Homo sapiens: one gene and its partners. The protein of the gene in region 1 interacts with the protein of each later gene in a biochemical or structural test. Each region holds a gene or a part of one and is shown in the gene's direction. Other genes may lie near its edges.

Region 1 (3,599 bases):
TCCTGCTCTGTCCAAGAGAGGCCTCCTCGGCAGCTCCCGTGCCCCGCCCTCCGCAGGAGCAGATGCAGCTTAGACCCCCTCACTCTGATGTGGATTGAGACCGCTGGTTTTCTTGGGGACACAGCCCCAGGAGCCTGCCACTGGTCTCAGGCCTGCAAAGCTGCTGAGGGCATCTGCTAGGTGCCTCTCCAAAGCCCCCTCTCCCCAGAGCCCCCTCTCCCTAGAGCCCCCTCTCTCCAGAGCCCCGTCTCCCCAGAGCCCTGTCTCCCCCCAGCATCTCCTGGCTCCTGCCCAGCTCCGTGGCTCCCCAGGGGATTCCTGAACTGACCAGCTGGCCTCGGCCCTCCTCCACAGCCCCCAGCCTGGTTGTGACACGTGGTCCTCCCGGATCCCACCAGAAGCCACCCTAGGTTGCTCCCCCTCCTCCCCTGAAGTGTCTGCCTTCCACCTGAAGTTCCAGCCAGGTCTTGCAGAGTGGAAGTCTCAGGCCTGCAAGTGACTGTGACCTGGCCTACCCCCATGTTCCCTCCAGGACTGGCCACCTGTGCCCATCTCAGCCCGCACTGCTGGAGCTCCGGCTTGAAGCCCCTCCCTGGGGTCTGCCACATGCACTCCTGTGCCCTCAGTCACCCCCACTCCCCTATTCCCCACTCCCCTATTCCCCACTCACCACACTGTGCACCCTGCTGGGCGCTGTCCACTCCCTCGCCAATGCCCAGCAAATATTTGAGGAGCTCTATCCCAGCCCCAGCCCATCACACACAGTCATGATCCTGGCTGGGGACCCACACGGACAGGGGGACCTTGGGGGGGTCACACTCTGGAACTAAGGTTCTGGGGGTGCTCTCGTTCCCATGGGGGCCCATCAGCAGGAGTGCACAGGCCTTAGCAGGAGCCCGTGGGGTGCGCTGTGGTGGGAAGGCTGGGAAGGGAAGGGGCCTTGGGAGCCACAGTGGATTGTAGGGTCCCCGCCTCTGGCTCCCCTCGCTCCCCCCTTCCTGCCGTGTTCTCAGTGTGAGCCGGCTCAGCCTTGCCTGGGTGTCCTTGTGCCCTGCGAGCTTCCAAGGGGCGCTGGGGAGGCTTCACAGAGGAGGTGGCTGCGCTTGGCAGCACAGATGATGTGGAGCATGGAGGCAGAGGCTGAGCAAAGTGCCTGGGGGACGGGGTCCCTCGGGGGGCAGGAAGGGCGGGCAGTGGGAGAGGTGCCAGGCCTGGGTCTCGAAGGAGAGCCTGGGAGAGTTCAGGCCATGCCCCTGCCCCGGCCAGGCCAGTGCAGCCCCTGCTCCCGCTGTGCCTGCCAGGGTTCCTGACTCAGCTTTGAGGACCAGGGTGGGGCGGGGTCCTGCCCCAGGCCTAGGCCAGAGCAGCTGGCAGTGGCTGGCACAGAGACATTCATGGACAAGTGTCTGGGAGGCCTGGGGGCGACCGGCAGCCGGTGAGGGGCCTGCGCATGTGGAAAGAGGGGCCTTCCTGCTGCATCTTGTGGGGCCTCCAGCAGGACCCCCTCCTGGGAAGGCTGGACAGCACAGTCGGAGCCGGCAGGACCAGCCAGCCGAGGGCAGGGAGCCGTGGGGCGCCGGGGAGAGGTTCACAGGTGGCCCAAGCGGCAGGGAACAAGATCCCAGTGTGGCCTCAGGTCTGGATGTTTGGAGATGTGGCACCAGGAGTGAGACCAGGAGGCCAGGCCCCTCTGGAGGTGGTGCAGGCTCTGCTGGGTCCTCTGTGTTGCCATCCCTGCCAGGGAAATGCTGGGCAAGAAGGTGCTCCCCGGGCAGGCCCTGGCATGTAGGTGGTGAGGCAGCGTGCTGCTCAGGGCGGGGCCAGGCAGCTGAGTCACAGGCCTGGGGCTGGCTGCCCTGCACAGGAGGGCGAGGCTGGCTCCCGTAGGCAGGAAGGGCCTGGCTGTGGCCCCCTCCTTGTGATGTGGACATCCTTGGTCCATACAGAGCTGTCCTGTCTCCAGAAACAAGTGTTTCTCCATCCTGAGCACACTAGCTTCCTGGGGCCCTCAGGGGCCTGTCCTCCCATCTGTCCATGTGGGGCTGGCGGGGTAGAGCCGGGCTTCTGGACATGTGTGGTGTTGCAGGCCCCTTCAGAGCCCTATGAACACTCCAGGCAAATGCCCAAATGCCCACGGTATTGACCGGCGAGAGGGGGCAAACCCCTGCCTCTCCCCACACGATATCTCCCAGCCCTGCAGCCTGGCATCTGGAGCCATGCGGACCTGGTGACAAGAAGGAGATGGGCAGAACTGTCCCCTTGTCCCCTGGGGGCAGGGCTAGCTCCTAGCCCTGGCAGAACCTAGTAGGACACTTGTTGAATGAGCAGAGGCCTGACTGGGAGAAGTTTCTAGTCTCAGCTGCTCCACATGGACCCCTGGGCCTCCAGATGGCATCTCCACCGGGCCTGGCTGAGTAAGACACACAGGCCCCACACAGCTCCCACATGCTGGCTGGGCTGCTGCGTCGAGGCCAGGATGAGGGCCTCTGGGGCCACTGCTGGGACCTGTTCAAGAGAACGGGCTGGGCACGCTCAAGAGGGGAGTCACACCTTCCGCCCGCAGCCCGGACTTGTTCACAGATGCCTCATGGAGGCTGCTTCCGGAAGCTTGGACTGAGGGTGAGGAGGGGCACGCTGGGATTGGGGACCTTGGTGGCCACGGAGCCGCTGGGGCAGCAAGGACCCTGCGGCCATTTCAGGGACCTCAGAACTGTAGATCGAGGAGGGTCTTCACCTTCCCAGGCCTTCGATTCACCTGTGGAGGGCAGCAGTTGGTAGCAGGGACCCCCTGTCCCTGGTTCTCATGTGCCGGGGGCTGGCTCTTCCTGCCTCCTGTCTGCTGTGGGCCCAGGCCTGGGGCTCCTGCCACCCCATAGGCGCCTCAAGGCCTCCACCCTGGCATGGACATGACTGTCTCAGGGCCTCAGCCCCAGGCTCACTGAGGAAGGGAGCTCCTGGACCCCTGCCTAGGAGACACGCTAGGTACGCAGGAACCTGCCCCCGAAGCCTGCTCCTCTGGGTCGGCAACGTCACCCCCACCGCACAGATGGGGGGGTGGGGTCACTGGGCGGGTCGGCAACGTCACCCCCACCGTACAGATGGGGGGGTGGGGTCAGTGGGCGGGAAGGGCTGGGCTCTCCCAGCACGGGGGCTTCACTGCCCCTTCCCAGGCCCTGGGGTCCTGCCATGGAGCTCCGGGCGGCACATGAACCCAGCCATTCTGCGTGCACCGTTCACTTTCCTTGGCCCCAGCCTTCGTTGGCCCCTGGGGACTCCACCCTGGCATAGACACAACTGTGTCTTCCAGGGGTCCACGTGGAGGTCACCAGATGTGGCAGGGCAGTGACGCCCTGGGTAGGGAGGCCTCCCGGGGGTGCTGGCAAGGAGATGGCCTGCCCATGTTGGGTCTAGAAGCTTCCAAGGCCGGTTCAGGCAGCCGGGATCTCCTGGGGCTGGAGTGGGCATTGGAGCCAGAAGTGGGGCAAGAGTCACTGACCAGCCGGAAAGAGGGGCCTCAGTAGGGGGGCCAGGGATGGAGGGGGAGGGGACACGACCGGGAGGCCCAGAGCAGGGTGTGTACGGTGAAGACGGTGCTGAGG
Region 2 (4,609 bases), on another chromosome or scaffold:
GCTATTGTGGCTTTTCTTTTTGTATGTTAACTTCGCGTTTAGAAAGACCGTAAAATAAGTAATGTGATATAGAAACAGCAGCCATGTTGTAGTGAAAAGAGAATGTGCTTTGCAATCAGTTAGACCTCAGGTCAAATCCCACCTCTTCCACTTAGTAAGTAGAACAGCATTGAGTCACTTCACTTCTCTCAACTGTCACAGGGAGTCAGTACTCTGTTTTGTATGGGGTGGTTGTATTTGGCAAATGCACTCCAGTATATGAAATCAGCCTGTCAGCTCTAATCCTCATAACAGTCCTGTGCCTAGAATGATATTATCCTATTATCTTTTGTTCTTTTTCTGTTTATTTATTTATTTATTTTGAGACAGTCTCTCTCTGTCGCCCAGCCTGGAGTGCAGTGGTGTGATATCAGCTCACTGCAACCTCTGACTTCCAGATTCCAGCAATTCTCCTGCCTCAGCCTCCCGAGTACCTGGGATTACAGGTGCCTGCCACCATGCTAGGCTAATTTTTTTGTTTTTAGTAGAGATGGGGTTTCACCACATTGGCTGGGCTGGCCTTGAACTCCTGACCTCCAGTGCTCTGCCCACCTCGGTCTCCCAAAGTGCTGGGATTACAGGCGTGAGCCACTGTGCCCCACCAGTATTATCCTTAAATAACAAATTTGTTATGAGTAAATTTTAGGGTTGGATAGTGAAAATTGATCACGAAATCCAAATTGCAAAATAGAAAAATATAACCTACTATGATATTTGTATGGTATGCAACTACAATATCATTATTGGTTCTCAAAAGATTTGAGATCAATTTCTTGAATATAACTTGAAATTTCATTAAAAGCCAGAAGACCATATATATGTATGTATATTATATATATATGTGTGTGTGTCTGTGTGTGTATGTGAGAATGATTCTAATTTTCAAATGTAAGTTTGTAACTGTTCATATCTGAATTTTCATGAAATGCTTCCAGCATATTCTAATAAAATCATGCAAGCCCCTAAAACTCTGATAACAAAGGTTAATTGTGATTAGAACTAAATTCTCCTGACTGGTGGTTGAGAACTCTTCTTCTCTTTCCCAACTGACTGACTGTAATAGGGCCTGGAAGATTTCTGCTTTTCTCACTGCCTACCTTATTGTGCAGATAAAGATGGTATTGGGAACACTTACATAAAAATCACTGTGTCTCAGGCATGATTCTGACCACTTAATCTGTGTTTAATCTTCATAGTGAAAGTTGTAGGAATGTTTTACATATGAGAAAACTGAGACACATAAGGGTTATGTAACTTGACCGAGTTCCCACGGCTGGTTAGTCAGAGAGCTGAGATTTGAACCCAGGCAGTTGGGCTCCAGAGTCCATGTTCTTGTCTATGACATTGTACTTGGTAGCAGTTATGTATCTTCAGAAGTCCCGTTACCTGGTTAGGAAGAGGTAGATCACTCTTTATAGAGATTTACAGCCCTTTTACAATTTGTTGTTACTCTGTCAGAGTTAACACTGCTGCTGTTGGCAAACATCATGTTAGGGAAATCACTTTAATACATGGAACCCAGTGCTGTTGTTGTGTTTTTTGACTATTGAGAGTGTGCTTACAAACTGATCATGAATAAGAGCCTACAGTACAGGAATGTTTAATAGTTACAAGTGATATAGGAAGTGCTGATAACATTAGAAATCATTAACTTGTCAGATTTTTATTTCTAAGTAGACCGTAAGATTTTTAAAGTTAAATTTGATGGCAGAAAATTATATTCAAATTCACATATGGGCAGGTTGGTACATATTTGTATTAGTCTGAGACAATATATTTTTCTCGTTCTCACTTAGTACTTTACAGAAAGTCATTTTTAGAGGAAAACTGATTAGCCAATGACATTGCCAGGCTTTTTTTTTTTTTTAATACATATTTTTTTCTTTAGTTGTAGGTCAAAAATAGTCAAATGTTGACAATTTCATGTGGTTATTTCTCACAAGAGAAAAAATTTCTGTCCTACTGAGGTGAAATTTTCACCCTTGCTGTACCTTTCATTGTATTTTGAAGGAAATTATCAGTAAATGTTATTTAAACTTAATGTTTATAATGTATATATGGCTAAAATGTTGCTAAAATAAGCATTTTATGTAATTCAGGAAGCAGAAGTTTGGTAAAAATTTCTCTATGCATTATTGAAGTCCAGGCAATTTGATGGCTACAGATTATTTTAAGAGATGTTTTTCTCAAGAAAAAGTAGAAATTAACAATTGAAATAAATGAATGAGCATCAAGAAATTACATCATGGATTGTAAGAAACTTTTCTGATATGGACCAAGGTTTGCCAGTCAATTATGTCATTGAAATTTTTGAAATAATGGGCAGGCGCTAATTACTTTGGCAGAAGACTACCATGTAGGAACATTAAGAAGAACATGTCACATTATCAGCTTCTAACTGTTGGAGTGGGTTAAAAAAATGGTCTGTCCTCATCTGCTGCTATGCGGGTTTAAATGTGGCTCCCAAATCTCCCACACTTCTGCATTATGTATTTAATACATTGTAGAGATGGTTCTGCAGCTACCACTGTCAGCCATTCCAGAGTGAGCACAAAGATGACATTTTACTGAGCTTGAGGGCTTCCTTTCATAATATAACCCTGTTCTCTTGCTGCGGGTTTTTTTGGGGTGGGGTGGTGTTGCACTCTGAATGATGGAAACTAATTTGAATTATTTTAGTTTACCTTCATTTAAAATGATGCCTAATACAGATAGTGAGCTTAATTTTACCTCTAACCTTGCATGTTAAACTTTTGTTTGAGTGGACTTTGAAATAATAAATACAAATGTTTGTGTATACGACAAGACAGATTTTTCTCCAAAGGTAAGTTCTTCCATATAAATTACACTTTGGACTCATCTATATAGGGCTTTTTTTCTTTATTTTTTGTTTTCTTTTTTTTTTTTGTCCTTCCCTTATAATTCTTGAGTATTAAATACTAGATTTAGCAAATATATTGTATTAAAGAAATTTAATTAGATGCTAATTTATTTTCCCAACATATTTGAAGGAATGTGTAGCACTTAGCCTCAAATCAGATAGGATATAAATGTGGAGTGTAATTTATTTGCACTCTGGCTTTTTAAGATAGTAGTTGCCAAAATCCAGTTTCCTGACCCCCATTTTGAAATGTCTGCTCTCACAGCTGTATAATGTATTAGCTTCAGTTGGGACTAGAGCTGAGAGTTTGATGTACACAGTTTTGTCATCCACATTATATGCTGTTTGTCTCTGAGGGATCCTGAGTTTGTCCATGTTTCTGAAACAACCAGTCAAGGTGTATTTTGAGGAGAGGGGAGTGAGGGCTGAGGTATGTTGTCTGGTTCTGATTGGTATCACATGAGCTGCTGAGCTGAAATCACAGTGGTTTATTTGGTGTCTTGCAGGACCCAGCCTTTATATGTTAATGTTTTTCCCTCATTGGTATGGGATACCTACAGGATGAAGTTTCAGACTTCATAGCAAGGCCTCTAGGACTGTTCTTCCTTTGTCTCCTCACCTCCAATCATATGCCCCCTTAATTCTTTTTTTTCCTCTTTTTTTTTTTTTTTTTTTTTTGAGATGGAGTCTTGCTCTTTCGCCCAGTCTGGAGTGCAGTGGTGCGATCTCAGCTCACTACAATCTCCGCTTCCCGGGTTCAAGTGATTCCCCTATCCCAGCTTCATGAGTAGCTGGGATTACAGGCACCCGCCACCACACCCAGCTAATTTTTGTATTTTTAGTAGAGACGGGGTTTTACCGTGTTGGCCAGGCTGATCTCAAACTCCTCACCAAAAGTGATCCACCCACCTCGGCCTCTCAAAGTTCTGGGATTACAGGCATGAGCCACCGCGCCTGCCCTCCCCTAACTCTAGAAACTTCTGAACTGTATGTATTTCTACTTAAATGTCCCATTCTTTTCCCTACACCTTGACTTTGCATAGATTGCTATTTACCAACCAATAATTTTTCTAGTCAATTTCACAATGAAAATCTCCTTAATCTTCTTAAAGTTAATAACTTTTTTCTTATACTATTCCCAGATTATGTTCATAACTCTATTGTAAACTTCATCAGAGTGCCTTATTTTCATGTCTCTCACCCACCAAACTATACCTTCCTTGAGGGCAGAAATTGTGCCACCAAAAGGCAGATCCAAATACAGTCTGCAATGAAGTGTGAATAAAATTTAAAAACAAAAATTACTTTTAGATCAAAAAATGTTTTAGATGCTTTCTATAAATATTTTTTTAAAAATCACCTGCAGTTGGTTCTATAGTGAGATATAAAACTGAACAACATTCCAAAATCTTAATTTTTTCTTAAAAAAAATTTCCCTGGTAGTTAACAAGTATTTTTTATTTGTACTCACTGTAATTTTCTCTGATTAAGTGTTATTTGGTCACACTTCTCACTTGGCTTTCAAGCCTGCTTTCAATTTATAAGAACAGGAGAAAAAAGAATGCTATAGCAAGTATTTAAATGTAGCAGTTATAGTATAAGAGAATTTTTAAGGAAAAGGGTGATACAGTGATATGTTTTTTTCTGCTTAAAACATCACTGTCAGTATATTTTTGGATCTTGAAAGAT
Region 3 (4,903 bases), on another chromosome or scaffold:
TTAGCTTGTAGGCCATACAAAAACAGGCCATTTCCCAATCTCTGCTTCAGAGTTACTGTAGGATAAAACTCCAAAAGTAGGCTTGGTCAAAAGATACCCATTTAAAATTAGGATATATGTTGTCAAATTGCTCTCCAAAAAGACTGTGCCAATTAATACTCTTGGCAGTAGTATATTGAGAATGTTAAGATGCTTTATTTTTATTTTTTATTAATTTTATTTTTTATTTCTCTGACATTTAGTATTATGTTCAACTCCAACTATAAATATCCCGGCCTCTCCGTTTATGCAGAAGCTTGGCTTTGGTACTGGGGTAAATGTGTACCTAATGAAAAGGTAAGTATAAGATTTCAGATTAACCTTTTTTCATGCAACTATAATTCTACTGTACTTGGAGACAAAGAAGTAGTCTGAAAATTCCAGTATTTAGATTCGGTTGTCTGCTCCTGATCCTGGCTGATGGCTGTATTCCGGTCCCTAGACCCTTTTGTAACTTTGCCTGTAGCTCTGCCTCTGCTTTTCTCCTAGCTTCCTCCTGATGGGTTATTAAAGGGGAAGTCATTTACTTTTTAATTTTTCCTTGGCTTCCATAAGAAGGGGAAGTGGCAGGGGAAAGGGTTCCTTTGTGGTAATTAAACCAGATTCTTCATGAGAAAACCTCAAAGAGGAAGCCAGTATTGGGTGATGTCAGTGACTGCTGTCTTTTCTGCAGCGTTGCCCTCCTAAGATATGCTCTTCTAAAAGAAGTAAAAGATTTTCATTTCTTATGGCATTGTTATTAAGAAGGGTAAATACATGATTTTAAAGTAGGAATATTGTGTTAAGAAAAATGAAATAATCGAACAAGTATGGTGCCAATATAGCTGTCAACAAAGTGTTTTTTTAAATTACTTTTTTATTATTCATATATTTTTTTGAAACAGAGTCTCACTCTGTTGACCAGGCTGGAGTGCAGTGGCACGACCTCCCAGGTTCAAGCGCTTCTCCTGCCTCAGCCTCCTGAATAGCTGGGATTACAGGCGTGTACCATCACACCCAGCTAATTTTTGTATTTTTAGTAGAGACAGGGTTTTGCCATGTTGGCCAGGCTGGTCTCGAACTCTGGCCTCAAGCGATCTGCCCGCCTTCGCCTCCCAAAATGCTGGGATTACAGGTGTAAGCCACCATGCCCAGCCCAAAATTACTTCTTTTAATCATTACTCTGTACCTAGTTTCATGTTTATTAAGTGGCAAACAACTACATCAATATATATTCCTTAATGCATTCTTGGAATCAGTCTAACTAGTCCAACCCTCCGTATCTTAGCTTCATCTAGGTTTACATTGTTTCCAGATAGAAATGCTTTCTTTAATAAGAGGCTAATTAAGAATAATTTAGTAATTATATACAATGGGTATTCCTGAAGCATTTTTGCAGTTTAAACATTTTTTTTGTATGTTTGTATGGTATTGTTTTCTAATTTGTTTTTTAGTGTTAACTCCTATTTTGAAAGAAAAAAATTCTCACAGGTTTATGGCTAGTTTCATTTTTTTCCCCCTTTTTAAAAAAAGTTTTTAAATGTAAAGTGTTTTTAACAAAGTTACACTGTATGTGGTTTAGTCAAAAAGCTTCAAATAGCTGATCTTTTTTTTTTTTTTTTTTTTTGAGACGGAGTCTCGCTCTGTCGCCCAGGCTGGAGTGCAGTGGCGCGATCTCGGCTCACTGCAAGCTCCGCCTCCCTGGTTCACGCCATTCTCCTGCCTCAGCCTCCCGAGTAGCTGGGACTACAGGCGCCCGCCACCACGCCCGGCTAATTTTTTGTATTTTTAGTAGAGACGGGGTTTCACCGTGTTAGCCAGGATGGTCTCGATCTCCTGACCTCGTGATCCGCCCGCCTCGGCCTCCCAAAGTGCTGGGCAAATAGCTGATCTTGAAGAACAGCAGTGCCTGCCTGACCCTACACTCCTCCTGATTCAGCCCTGTCAACCTGGGATTTCTTTTATCCATAACCTGCAAATTTCCTATGCTTCTCTGCTGAATTATATCCTGTGTTTTTAGGTATCTTGTGTCTTATTATTTCTTGATTTACATCCCGTTTTCATTTAGGACATCTGGTAGCTCCCCATGAATCGGTGCACAGAAGATATATTTTTTTGAGAATTTGCATTTCCAAAAATGTTTTCATTTTACTCATACTTGAATGGCCCTTTTTGGTTTTCTGGGTTACAATTCTCATTTGGAAACAATTTCCCTCCAGAATTTTGAGAATATCAGTCACTGACATTGTTTTTTTTCTAGCTTACACTGTTGCTGTTGAGAATTATGAAGCCTTTTTGACTGCTAATTCTTCATATGTAATCCGTTTTATGTTATCTGTCCCCCCCACTGTCCTGGATCCTGGTATGATCTTCTGTATGTCGGTAGCATTCTGAAATTTCACAATGACATGAGTGGATGTGGGGATCTTGGAATCTGAATAGTTCCTGTTCTTAAATTTCTGAGACATTATTTTAAAAATTACTTTGTTGATGATTTTCACCTCTTTTTCTCTGTTCTCCATCTGGAATCCAATTATTTGAATGTTGAACTTACTGATTTCTCATCTACCTCTTTTTTGCTTGGTTTTCTTATTCGCTATCTTTTTTCTGAGATTTCCCCAGCTTTATCTTTCAACAATTCTATTGAGTTTTTATCTTGTTTTTAATTAATTATCTTTTTAAAAATAGCATCTTTAGTCTCTTGGAGTGCTAGAAATGTTCGGTATCTAGGTGTTGATAACACAGGTATATGCACATGTAAAAACTCATTGAGCATTTAGTATGCATATGGTGATTAATTATTAACCTGCTTCTGTATTACAGGTTCTCAACTGACAGTAAACCTCAGGCTAAAGACTTGTTTTATACCTTCCAAAGCTAGTCTACCATCTTTAGAAGCTGGGGAAGGGGGGTGGGCAGCTGCCAGTTGGTACAGAATTAAGGAGGGTATCTACGAGTCCACCTGTTTTTTACCATTATTATTTAGAGACAGGGTCTCATTTTGTTGCCCAGGCTGGAGTGCAATGGTGCCATCATAACTCACTGCAGCCTCAAACTCCTTGGTTTGAGCAATCCTCCTGCCTCAGCCTCCCAAGTAGCTGGGACTACAGGCGTGGGCCACCACATGTGACTTTTAAAAGTTTTTTGTAGAGAAGGGGTCTCACTATATTGCCCAGGCTGGTCTCAAACTCCTGGTCTCAAGTCATCCTCCTGACTTGGCCTCCCAAAGTGTTGTGATTATAGTTGTGTGCTAACCCTTCCAGGCCTACGTGCTTTTTAAATAACTTGCAAGCAGTTCATTGGGGCTAAGTCAGTTACTTTCTTCTGCTTTCCAGCTTCTGAAATTTTGTTGCTGTTGTCTCTTCTGCTGTTATTTCCATTCTTGCTGGCTTGTATGTCTAAAAAATATCCATTTGCTATTATGTTAGTGGGCTTGGAAAGGATAAAAACAATGTGTATGTTTAAGCTACAATTTTAACCCAGAAGTCTATATTTTTTTTGTTAAATCAAGTTTGCATTTCTTGGTTAAATCCAACATAGTTTTGATGTAGTATTTTTAAATAAACTGATGGATTCAGTTTGCTAATATTAAAGTTTATTTCAATTTTTGCATCTGATATAAGTGAAGTTGGCTTGTGGTTTTCCTTTTTCTACTGTCCCTTTTGATTTTTTAAAATTAAAGTTATATGAGACTCATAGTACCTTTTCTGTTCCCTGGGGAAACAGTTTGTATAAGATTGAATGGTAAATTCTTTGAAAGCTTAGTAAACTCACCTGTAAAATCATCTGCACTTTGTATTTCTAGTAGGAACATTTTAAACTGGTGATTAAATTTCTTCATTCATCAGTTTTCTTAGATTTTTCTAAGTCTTTGACCATTTTGTCTTAAATGATTGCATAAAGATTTTATTTACTTACATATTTTTTCTCTTGTATCTGTAGTTTTGTTTCCATTTTTATTTGTGATATTGTCTTTATTTTTTCTTGTGTAATCTCATCAGAAATTTGCCTTTTTTCTATTAGTCTTTTTAATGAACCAGCTTTTTGCATGGTTGAGTATTCAGATTTCATAAATCTATTCTTATTCGATAGATTAGAATATGTTATGGAAAAGGTGAAGATTGACTTGTTTACTAAATTCTAAACTTTCAAGAGCTAAACTTTCAACCCTTGAAATTTGAAAAATATATTTTTCATAATAAAATGATATGCAGGTGCTCATCATTATCCTCAAATGCTGCTGTTATTTAAAACTGGAGGTTTAAGAATAGTTTAGATCAACTTACGGATGATAGATGTACATGAATTAAGAAATCTTGTGATCCTTTTAGTATAGGCTTTTTGATTAAACAAAAAAGGTTCTGCAGTCTTAGAGCTATACCTGTGAGGGAGTCCAAAGCTAAACAGATCTTTGATTCAATCTCTTGTTTTGTGTTCTTACCATTAAACTTTCTGTCTTAAACTTCTGAGGCTCTTTCACTAGGTTTTGTGCTGTTATGCTGCATATACTTAAGTATTTTGTGATTTGCTCTACTCATAAATATCTACCACCTCAGGTAAACCTTTCCCTGACTTTATTTTACCTATTTAGGCCTTAAAACATTTATACCTTAAATATTTGTAAAATGGCTGAATCTTCCTAGAAAATAGAAAGTTTAAAATTTTCTCATTTGTATGTTCATCATTATCTCCTTAAGCACATATCTTTGAGCATGTGGTAAAAGGTATAAGGTGAATTGGTCAGTGTAGGGGAGCAATAAGAACAGCATGCTGTTCTTTGGATGATGATATATGGGTAAAATGTTCTTGATTATCTCTTCTTTAAATTTCCTAATGTTTTTTTCTTCAGGATCCTATAACTCATCTCTGATACATATAATTAAAT
Region 4 (4,903 bases), about 70 Mb from region 1:
TAGCTCAATTCAATTCCATTTAAACACCTTCTGCCTACTCAATAGATACTAGAGTTGTTCAACGCTACACTATAATTTTATACTCTAAAATCTGCTATAGAAATTGTAATAATTCAGTAACCAAATTTTGACTAATCAATTATGAATCATTGTTAAATATACATGACTCAATGAGAAGAAATAATAGGATAGTGGACAACTAAGTGAAAAAGTCATTCATATCATACATCTGGAATGTTCTAAAAAGAACATAATGTGATATATTACAAATAGTAGGACTAGTCCAAAGCATACTATTCCTTTTGCTTTTATAAAAGATGGGAACAAAATCTTTCAATGCTCCACATACCATATAAATAGCTTCTCAAAGAGCTTTCTGTAGTTTTATAGGAAAACTAAGGCCCAGTGTTTATTTTTTAGGAAAAGCTCCAAAGAACTTGGGCCAACATATAATGGGGTGGGGGGAGGGGGGAGGGATAGCATTAGGAGATATACCTAATGCTAAATGACGAGTTAATGGGTGCAGCACACCAGCATGGCACATGTATACATATGTAACTAACCTGCACATTGTGCACATTACCCTAAAACTTAAAGTATAATAATAATAAAATAAAAATAAAAATAAAAAAATAAGGATCCAGACCTGATTCTATCATTTATGAGTACTATGTCCATAGGAAAGCCACTTCAACTCACTGTACTTTTTCTTACCTGTAAGAGATCAAACCTGATAAAGTATCAGGTTTATTCCAGCTCTAACACTCTGAAATGCCACAAAATGCACTCCCCAATAAATTAAGATTAAAGGAATGCCCAAACCCCAAACATGATCATTGTGATCATTTCTTATGAAACATAAGAATGAGACATAAGAATTTTATATGAGATACTGGCAGAATTTGCTGAGTCAGTCTCAGGCAACATTTAATAAGTAAATATGCAGCTAAGCAGTGGACTATAATGCTTTTACACAGCCAGAAAATAGCAATATTCCTAAAATTAATGAAAGCATACACAAATCCACTCAGGATGCTAGGACACAGGCAGCTGAATGATATGAGCTTATAATCTATTCTTCCCAGACTATTTATCTTATCACAGCAACACCCTGAAGCCACATGCAAAGGATGAACCAGACTCCCCAGTGCTCTATAGAACCATGAGTGAAGCAGCTCTGGTGAGAAAAAGGATGAAGCCTCTGATGATGGACAGAAAAGAAAGACAGAAAAATAGAGCCTCTATTAATGGACACTTCTATAACCATGAAGTAAGTGAGTTACAATTCCATTAATGTAATATAAAATAAGGTTCCCTGTTTCACTAACAATACCACCCAATTCAATTCACAATTTAAAGTCATAATAATAACAGTAGCATGTCTAACATCTTGGGGGCACTCTCTATGTGCTAGATATTAAAGTAAATGTGTTTTAAATAGATTTTTACTGAATTATCTTATTAATCACTAAAACAATCCTATGAAATAGGTACCATTATTTTCTTTACTTGACATATAAGCTAATTGAGGCTTATGGAGATTAAGCAATTTGTCTTAGATTATGCTACTCTTAAGTAGTAACTCTCAACCTGAACCCAGCTTTGTCTGACTCCAGAACACAAGTTTTTAACCACCATGATGGGTGAACTCTATCACTGTGCCAAGTATTAAAAACATGCAGATGAGGCAGCCGATGTCTCAGCCAGCACGGAGCTCAGGGATTGAGCAGGGAAACCAACATACCAACAATAATACTGGAATAATGTAAGTGCTACAAAGTGGTTGGATCAAAGGACATTTGAACGTGAACATTTAAATAAAAGGAAAAAGCCACAGGCCAATTTATTCCAATAAATCAAACTTCTCATGTTGCCATGTTCCAGGTCTTTTACCTATACACATACCGTTTTTATATAAGTGTAGTTGTAGTTTAGATACAATTCACATTCTGCTTTTTCACTGAATATGTGTTAAATTTATATGTGCCTTTCCATAGTGCTTGTAAGACATTACATTTTGCTGAAGGTAGGAAATATATCATCATTTTTTTCCAGAACTCAAATATTTTTCATGTGATGTACTTTAGCAATCATTCATCGCTCCATCTCATAAATACTTAGCACTTACACTGTGCCAGGTATCTTCTGAGGCCTTTAATAAGAAATAGGAACTCATTGCTTTGTAGGCTTTTTCCTGTAAGGATTTCTACTTTATTTCTTCTTCTTCTACCCTTGGGGGGTAACGATAGTGTGTCTTTGGAGCCTGGTGGGGAGAAATCTCTCTTCTCAATTATTTATTCATATCAGAATTTTAGGGTTCCAGAATCATTCTCATAGCTATAAAGTAGCATTGATAGTCCCCCACAGAGAGGTACCTACCAATTGTCCTGTTTCCCTCTTCACAGAAATTGTGTTGTATGTCATTATCTTGTGGGGTAATTTGTGTTGAAGAAGGAAAGCCACATTGCTCCAAGCAAGTGGCTTTCAGATTGGATCACTTGTGCTGGAAATGAAATTGACACTAGGTTGGCAGCACGGAATGGTGGTTAAATGCTTGGGCCCTGGAGCTTGACAGCCTGGTTTTACATTCTTGCTGAGCAAGTTTCATTCTTCTTACTTTACAAGGCTGTTGATGGGATGGAATGAAATGAGGTAAGTTCAGCATAAGAATAGTACCTGGCACAAAAGAACTCGGTCTACATTAGCTTATGTTGTTGCTGTTGATTGAATGAGCTCAAGCTGGGACTATAGATATTTTACACAAATGTCATTCACTGCAATTTAATAACTAGCAGAAAACAATACAAACAAAAAAGAAAAAACAAAGCATTCTATCAACAATTATACAATGACGGACATCTAGGAATTTTAGTGGATATGTTTCTTAAGTTGCTGTGTGTCGTAAGATATGTTTTTATACTATGAAGCCCCTTGTTAATGCCAATATTGTTAGGCTATGAATAACACACATATTAAAGGCTTAGATTGTCATATCTGGAGATTAGTTATGGTGAATATAACTTGACCAGTAGTATATTTCTATCAATGTGATAGTAAATGATAGCAGGTTTCATTATATGTTTTGGCCAACACAACTGATATAAAGACTATAGATTTAAATACTGCTCTGAAAAACAAATTCACTATATGTTGACATTTTAGAAGAGCTCTTAGAGATTAGTCTTACTATCTTATTTTATAAATGAAGTCATTTATCAAATATATGTTAAGTGAGTCAATAAAGATGTTAAATGAGTTGACAAAGTTGGAGTTCGTGGGCATTTAGTGGGCACTAAAATCTAGGTCTCCTGAATGGTAATCCATGTTATTGTCATAGTGCATGAAGCTTCTTCACATAAACAACATCAAACCACGTGTACAACATATCATATTCACCTTAGCGCAGGATGAACATGTGGTTTTTCAGGGCTCCATAGAAATCGTAAATGTCACAGAATAACTTATCAATGCTCTAAAATGTCTACAAATATTGAATTTTCTCATACTTATAAAAGTTTATCCTAGACACTCTCCACACATCTTCTCAGAAAACTTATTTACATATCCACATTTTTACTCACACAAATGCCGTGTGTGTGTGTGTGCGTGTTACATGTGTGGGTGTTATAAATGTTTGTGTCTGTATACTTTGATGTTAATTTACTGATCTCTCAATATAGGACTTATCTTTTTAACAGTCCAATGAGCCACCCCAAAACCCACCCATCTCTACATCTGCTGAACCCACCCCATTTCTACAGAGCCTTGGAATACTTGGAGATTGTGCATATAAATAAAATATGTGGAAATAAATCCTTACTTAATATCTCTATCCGTTTTTAAATATGCATCTGGTGACATTCTTTCTTACTTATTTTGAAATCTTAAACTGCACTAAAGAGGGGTGTAATTGTCCAGTGAAAATGTTATAAGCATCCTCAAATGGTGTTTTACCTAATTTACTCTAGAAACAATATAAAGCTGCTTAAAAGAACACATAATATTCAAAAACAACAAAGAAAAACAAACAAAAACAAAACAAATTTTTTAAATTAATGACCTTGGATTTTTTTTGCCCTATAAGAAGATTATGTTCAAGATATTGAATACCCTTAATATAATATAATTTTAAAGACTTATGTGACAATTCTTTTTCTAGACATCAATTTTCATTCCAGCCTTTGAATCAGAAACTAAGGTCAGAGTAAACAGTAACATGAGAACTGAAGAAGTAATAAAGCAACTTCTCCAAAAATTTAAGGTAACCTTTATCACTTAACTGAGCTATAAATATATTATATATAATTCAACTATAAACACACAAATCCACTCTTCTGAAACAGATCTATAAAGGTGTAAATCTAAATTGGATGTTGAGCACTGAAAGATTCTTTCCTTTGTATAACACCTTTTAGTAACTATCCCTTGAAAAATTATATAATTCCCATAAGAGCAGAGAAGATTTTATGTCTAAAAGTGAAAAATGGAAGAGAGAAAACAGACATGATTTGGGTCTGGTCAGGTTAGAAAACATCATATAACAACAAAGAATTTATATTTGTTCATTTTTTCCCTTGACAGATTGAAAATAGTCCCCAGGATTTTGCTCTTCACATTATTTTTGCAACAGGAGGTAAGAAAGCTTGATCACACTTTTTACCTGACTCTAGAGTGCTACAGTTTGCTGCCCAGGGGGAAGGCAGAAGAACAGTTTGCCTCATTCTGTGGAGAAAGGGGAGGAATGGGTAGGAGAAAAGGAAGGAGTGGTCTTTAGAACATTATCTATAGTCCACAATTTTAAAGAAAGATAACTTAAGAATAAGGTATCCCTGAAGGGTTGATTATATGAAAGAGTTTGCTTGTTGGCCAGACATTAAATTATCTAAATGGAGATCAAAACCCT
Region 5 (4,903 bases), on another chromosome or scaffold:
CTTTTTGCCTTTATCGTCAGCCAAACCCATTTTGTCAAAGCCAAACCTAACATTCTCTGTTAATATTTTATACCAAGTTTCTCATTTACATTAGAAATACATACTTGATCATGAAAAACAAGGCAGTAATATGGATTTAAAAGATTTCTAGGGAACAAACTGGAAAGCTGTAAAGGTCAGACATTCGAATTGGTTTGTAGACATGGGCTATTTAACATCTTTAAACATAAAAAATCCCTCATGAAGATAAAGAATAATATTTAGTCTTATCCAAATTGAATCAGACCGGCTTCAAGGATTGTCAGTACGTGAGAGATTGGTGTTCAGAACTGCTGCACCAGAGGCAAATATGAAGTGTGTCGAAAGAATGATTTTGTACCTGAGTGACTTAGGATTTACACGCTCCATGTCCTTTGTGTGATGAGCTAGTTCTAGCTAATGTGCAAAAGACAAATTAGCCTCTACAAACACATAGGGGCAGGTTGCGATCCAGTGCATCTGTGGTGCTAACGATAGTTGCTGATAGAAATTGAGAAACGGGAAAACAACCCGCCTCCCCCCGCAAAATGGAGAAAATTGAAAGAAGTGTGATTCCCTTGCATTGCCAGAATTTCTGACGTAGAAATTCGCGGGTAAGTGCAAGTGATTTGCTCGTTTTGTTCTCATTCTGTAATGCAGCTGTTATTATGAAGTACCTGTGACAGCATTCACTCTGGAAGTCATAGCCTGTCACCTCGATGTGATAGAAAGGAAAGCAACATGGCTTTTCCGCACTTTTACATTTGCCCTTACTCACACAGAGCTCCCACACGTTGCTATGGAATTATCATCTGTATTTTTCAACTTAAATTTTGTTGGGTAGTAAGAAAATAAGTCTTAAGAGATTAATTCTTAAACATTAAAAAGAACCCAAGAGCTAAAAATGTTTGAATAGCTATAAAATAGTCTTAGCAAGCTGGTATATACTGTCTCTCAGCAGACCTGTGTACATTTTTACTGGCCATATGCAGTTCGAAGCCATGTCTTTATATGTAGGGTTTGAAGGAAGAGAACATAGATCGAACATTTGTGTTATACCTCCTGGGTTACATTAGGGGGCACACTGCTACCATGTTACTAGCCTTGCAGTGTGCTGCCTTAACTGATAAGAGTTTAGTGGGGTTTTGGGTTTTTTTTTTACCCCAGCCAGCCATCAAACTGTGGGTCTAACCCTACAGCGAAGACTGAGCTGACCTGCCATATTTTGAATTTCAGGTCTAACTTTTGACAGAGGTAGCAGTGAATTGGGAACTCTTAATTGGCCTTAATGTTAGGCTCCTACTAAATGACAGGATGTGTATCTACCAGCGTTATTTTGTTTACAAAGAGAAACCAAAGTCAAGTTAGCTTAAGAAGATAGCATTTCTCAAAGTGTATACCATAGAACACTAGTTTTCCAGGACATTATGTAATAAGCGGGGGAGAAAAGGTCTATAGTCAAGTAAGTTTGGAAAACACTGGACTGAACAAAATTATTTGTATTCCTTTATTCTAAGCCTTGAAAATGCGAATATGTTTTGAATATACACAAGGAGTATACAGTGTGCAGCATTTCCCAGCGGAACCCTCTTTTCACAGAGCATCTATCTTAGGACTCGTTTTCCTTGGGATACTAGTTGGGAAAGTAACAAACTCAGATGCCAAATGGGGCCAGACAGCTGACACAAATGAAGGAGGCCGGGTGTAGTCCCCACGTGGCATAGTGGGGACTGGCAAAGTGAAAAGGGACAGCCCTTCTCAGCTTTTAAAGATTATCTCTATTAAGAGAATGTGTGCCATTGTGGCCAGAACTCCTAGTTCTTTATGAACTGCCAGAATTCTGGAGTTTCATGTGAAATTTGAAATGTTAAAAATTAACTAAATTAGGTTTTTAAAAAACTGCTGAGGAAACAGCTCACATCACAGGCTACAGCCCCGAGGGCTGCCAGTTCGCCAGTTCAGCTCAGGAGTCTGGAGTCTGGAGTGATGGCTGGAGAAATCAGGTGCAGAACCTCGGGTGCCTCTGCTCCTCCTCCTGAGCTCTCTGGGTCTTCTGAGCTGAGTGTGCTCAGCGGCCCTGGCTCCTGGCCTGCAGCATGCCCTGCTGAGCTGGGAAAGTGAATAGCGCCCCCAAAGGTTTTATGGCGTTTTTAGGTTTTTGGGGTTTTTGGCCAGTTCCCTCTCTTCCAAACTATAGGACTAATGTGTGCCTCCAGATTATCTTGGTGGATACCTTTATTTATTTTTTGAGACAGGGTCTCATTGTGTTGCCCAGGCTGGAGTGCACTGGTGGCTCCACGGCTCACTGCAGTCTCAACCTCCCAAGGTTCAGGTGATCCTCCCAGAGGAACTGGGATTACAGGCATGAGCCACCACGCCCAGCTAACCCTTTGGATTTTTAGTAGAAATGGGGTTTTGCCATGTTGCCCAGGCTGGTCTCAAGCTCCTGGCCTCAAGTGATCCCTGCATCGGCCTTCTAAAGTATTGGGATTACAGGCGTGAGCCACCATGCCCAGCTCCTTTCTCCTCTATCTGAAAATGATAAGGAGTAAACTGGGCGGTGAACTGAACTCGAGGACTGGTGGCCCTCGCAGATAAACGTCTGGTGTGCATTTTCAGTGCTACAAAGGACAACACTCAAATTTGAGTGTGAGTGTATTCGTCTGCTCGGGCTTCCCTCACAAAATACCACAAACTGGGTGGCTTAGACACTGGGAATGTATTTTCTCAATTCTGGCAGGTAGAAGTCCAGGATCAATGCGTGGCAGCCTTGGTTTCCCCGAGGCCTCCCTCCTGGGCTTGCAGACCGCCCTTCCTGCAAGGTCTGTGTGTGTCGCATTCCTGACGTCTCCCTGTGTGTCCAAATGTCTCTTATAAGGACACCAGTCAGCTTGGATTAGGATCCACCATAATGGCCTTTTACCTTAATCACCTCCTTAAAGGCTGCATCTCCTGCTGCAGCCGGCTTTGGGGGTGCTGGGGGCCGGGGCCTCCGCGTCGGGGCGTACATTTCAGCGCATCTGCGTTCACGACTCAATGCTGTGTCTCCCTCTCGTTTCCTTCTCCCCGGAGCAGGGCTCTGTGCAGTCTTTCACCCCCTCTCCAGTGGAGTACCACTCGCCAGGACTCATCTCCAACTCCCCTGTCTTGTCGGGCAGCTACAGCAGTGGGATTTCTTCTCTCAGCCGGTGCAGCACGTCGGAAACCTCAGGCTTTGAAAATCAGGTGAATGAACAGTCGGCCCCCCTGCCGGTGCCAGTGCCGGTGCCCGTGCCGAGCTACGGCGGGGAGGAGCCAGTGCGCAAGGAGAGCAAGACTCCGCCCCCGTACAGCGTCTACGAGCGGACTCTGCGGCGCCCCGTCCCGCTACCTCACAGCCTCTCCATCCCCGTCACGTCGGAGCCGCCCGCGCTGCCCCCCAAGCCTCTGGCAGCGCGATCCAGCCACCTGGAGAATGGGGCCCGGAGGACTGACCCCGGCCCGCGGCCCAGGCCCCTGCCCCGCAAGGTCTCTCAGTTATAAGTCACTTTTCTATGTACCTGCGATGCATTCTTTGCCCGTTTACAAAATAAGAAGTATGATGAGAAGACATTTAGTGTAGGCACTTTAATAACTTACTCAGCTCCTTCGATGAATGGAATTAAAACTTGCTTATTAAATATCATGTTGCACAATATTAAAAGTTGCTGATCTAAAACGCCAGATGTTAAATGAAGTATGGCTGAATTTCATTAAAACGTTTCTCATTTGGAAGTGGTAAATAGTGATAAAGACTCCTTTTGTACCTTTTTATGTTCACTTTTTTTTATATAGTTTAATCTTAAAACCAATACGATATTGTCAAACGATACAATGTGTGACAATGTTGTATCGTTTTTACTGAATACTTGATACTTGGAGAAAGCTTATTAAGTCAGTGCACATCCTAACACAGTGGTCCTTATTTTAGAAGACTTCTGTAAATAAGGCAAGGTTTATCAGTGCAGATCATCAGAATTAAAGTTCAAGCAGGCGAGCAAGACAGTATACTTAAGGGGTTGCAAAGCTTGGGACTGGAAATTGTTTTGTTCTTGAAACAAAATACTTCTTTAAGGTTGCTTTTGCTGTTTGACTGCTGTCTACATTCGTAAAATTCTATTTTGTGAATTGGTAGCTAAATCCCTTACTACCCTGACACCGTGGTATCTACTGTATTTCTTTTCAAGGTGCAATTTGCTTCAGAGTTCCAATCAGCTAGATTAAGCAAGAGGCTCCAGAAGAAATGTTTACTTGAATTTTGCGCTTCCTTTCTTGATAGTTTCCTATATAAAATTTGTCATTGAACAAGAGCAAATGCTGAAGTATTAATGAGGCACAAATGACTGTGCCCCATTAGCAAGAATTCAGGAATCAATACAGACAGTATTAAATTAATAGCTTAAGTGAAGAAAAAAAAAACTTAGTGAAAATGTATTAGCACGATTAAATGGCAAAAGGACTTATAAAAGGCAAGGGCATTAACTTTCAGTCCTGCACAAAATAAAAAATTCCTCACGACTCTCCACTTTTACCAGTGGAGTTTGTCTTAGCTGACCTGTCGTCTTTCTCTTGAAGGAGGATTGCTGTAGACTTCTCTAGCTTGAATATTGCAACATAGCATCTTAGGTCTAGATAGGGATGCTAATGCCAGTTGTAGAAGTGTGAAAAAAGCACCTTGTATGTAGTAATGTATTTTATATCTTTGTTTTTTCTTTTACTGACTGTTTATAACACTCAATTGACAATAGATATGAACTGTATTTTAAATCATACTGTTAAATATTTTCCCTCTTTTGTTGGGAAGCTCATTTTAGTTTAACCATGTTTGTTTTGTTGGTAGCTTACCTGGAAGGCAGTGACCACTTTT

What was found.
Region 2: the proteins of RGS12 (region 1) and ITGB1 form a complex in vitro, tested with the Homo sapiens proteins (one study listed by IntAct).
Region 3: the proteins of RGS12 (region 1) and PBK interact in a test that uses a peptide from one of them, tested with the Homo sapiens proteins (one large-scale study listed by IntAct).
Region 4: the proteins of RGS12 (region 1) and RASSF6 interact in a test that uses a peptide from one of them, tested with the Homo sapiens proteins (one large-scale study listed by IntAct).
Region 5: the proteins of RGS12 (region 1) and DOCK4 interact in a test that uses a peptide from one of them, tested with the Homo sapiens proteins (one large-scale study listed by IntAct).

Annotation. Positions count from the first base shown.
Region 1 is NC_000004.12:3,435,322-3,438,920, forward strand, and holds part of RGS12 (regulator of G-protein signaling 12), read left to right. Parts: intron 1-3,599. UniProt on the Homo sapiens protein: Regulates G protein-coupled receptor signaling cascades. Inhibits signal transduction by increasing the GTPase activity of G protein alpha subunits, thereby driving them into their inactive GDP-bound form.
Region 2 is NC_000010.11:32,902,341-32,906,949, reverse strand, and holds part of ITGB1 (integrin beta-1 isoform 1A precursor), read left to right. Parts: intron 1-4,609.
Region 3 is NC_000008.11:27,823,538-27,828,440, reverse strand, and holds part of PBK (lymphokine-activated killer T-cell-originated protein kinase), read left to right. Parts: intron 1-242; coding exon 243-336; intron 337-4,903. UniProt on the Homo sapiens protein: Phosphorylates MAP kinase p38. Seems to be active only in mitosis. May also play a role in the activation of lymphoid cells.
Region 4 is NC_000004.12:73,581,547-73,586,449, reverse strand, and holds part of RASSF6 (ras association domain-containing protein 6), read left to right. Parts: intron 1-1,085; coding exon 1,086-1,270; intron 1,271-1,616; coding exon of another isoform or gene 1,617-1,631; exon of another isoform or gene 1,632-3,844; intron 3,845-4,159; coding exon 4,160-4,261; intron 4,262-4,581; coding exon 4,582-4,633; intron 4,634-4,903.
Region 5 is NC_000007.14:111,726,911-111,731,813, reverse strand, and holds part of DOCK4 (dedicator of cytokinesis protein 4), read left to right. Parts: intron 1-3,093; coding exon 3,094-3,540; 3' UTR 3,541-4,903. UniProt on the Homo sapiens protein: Functions as a guanine nucleotide exchange factor (GEF) that promotes the exchange of GDP to GTP, converting inactive GDP-bound small GTPases into their active GTP-bound form. Involved in regulation of adherens junction between cells.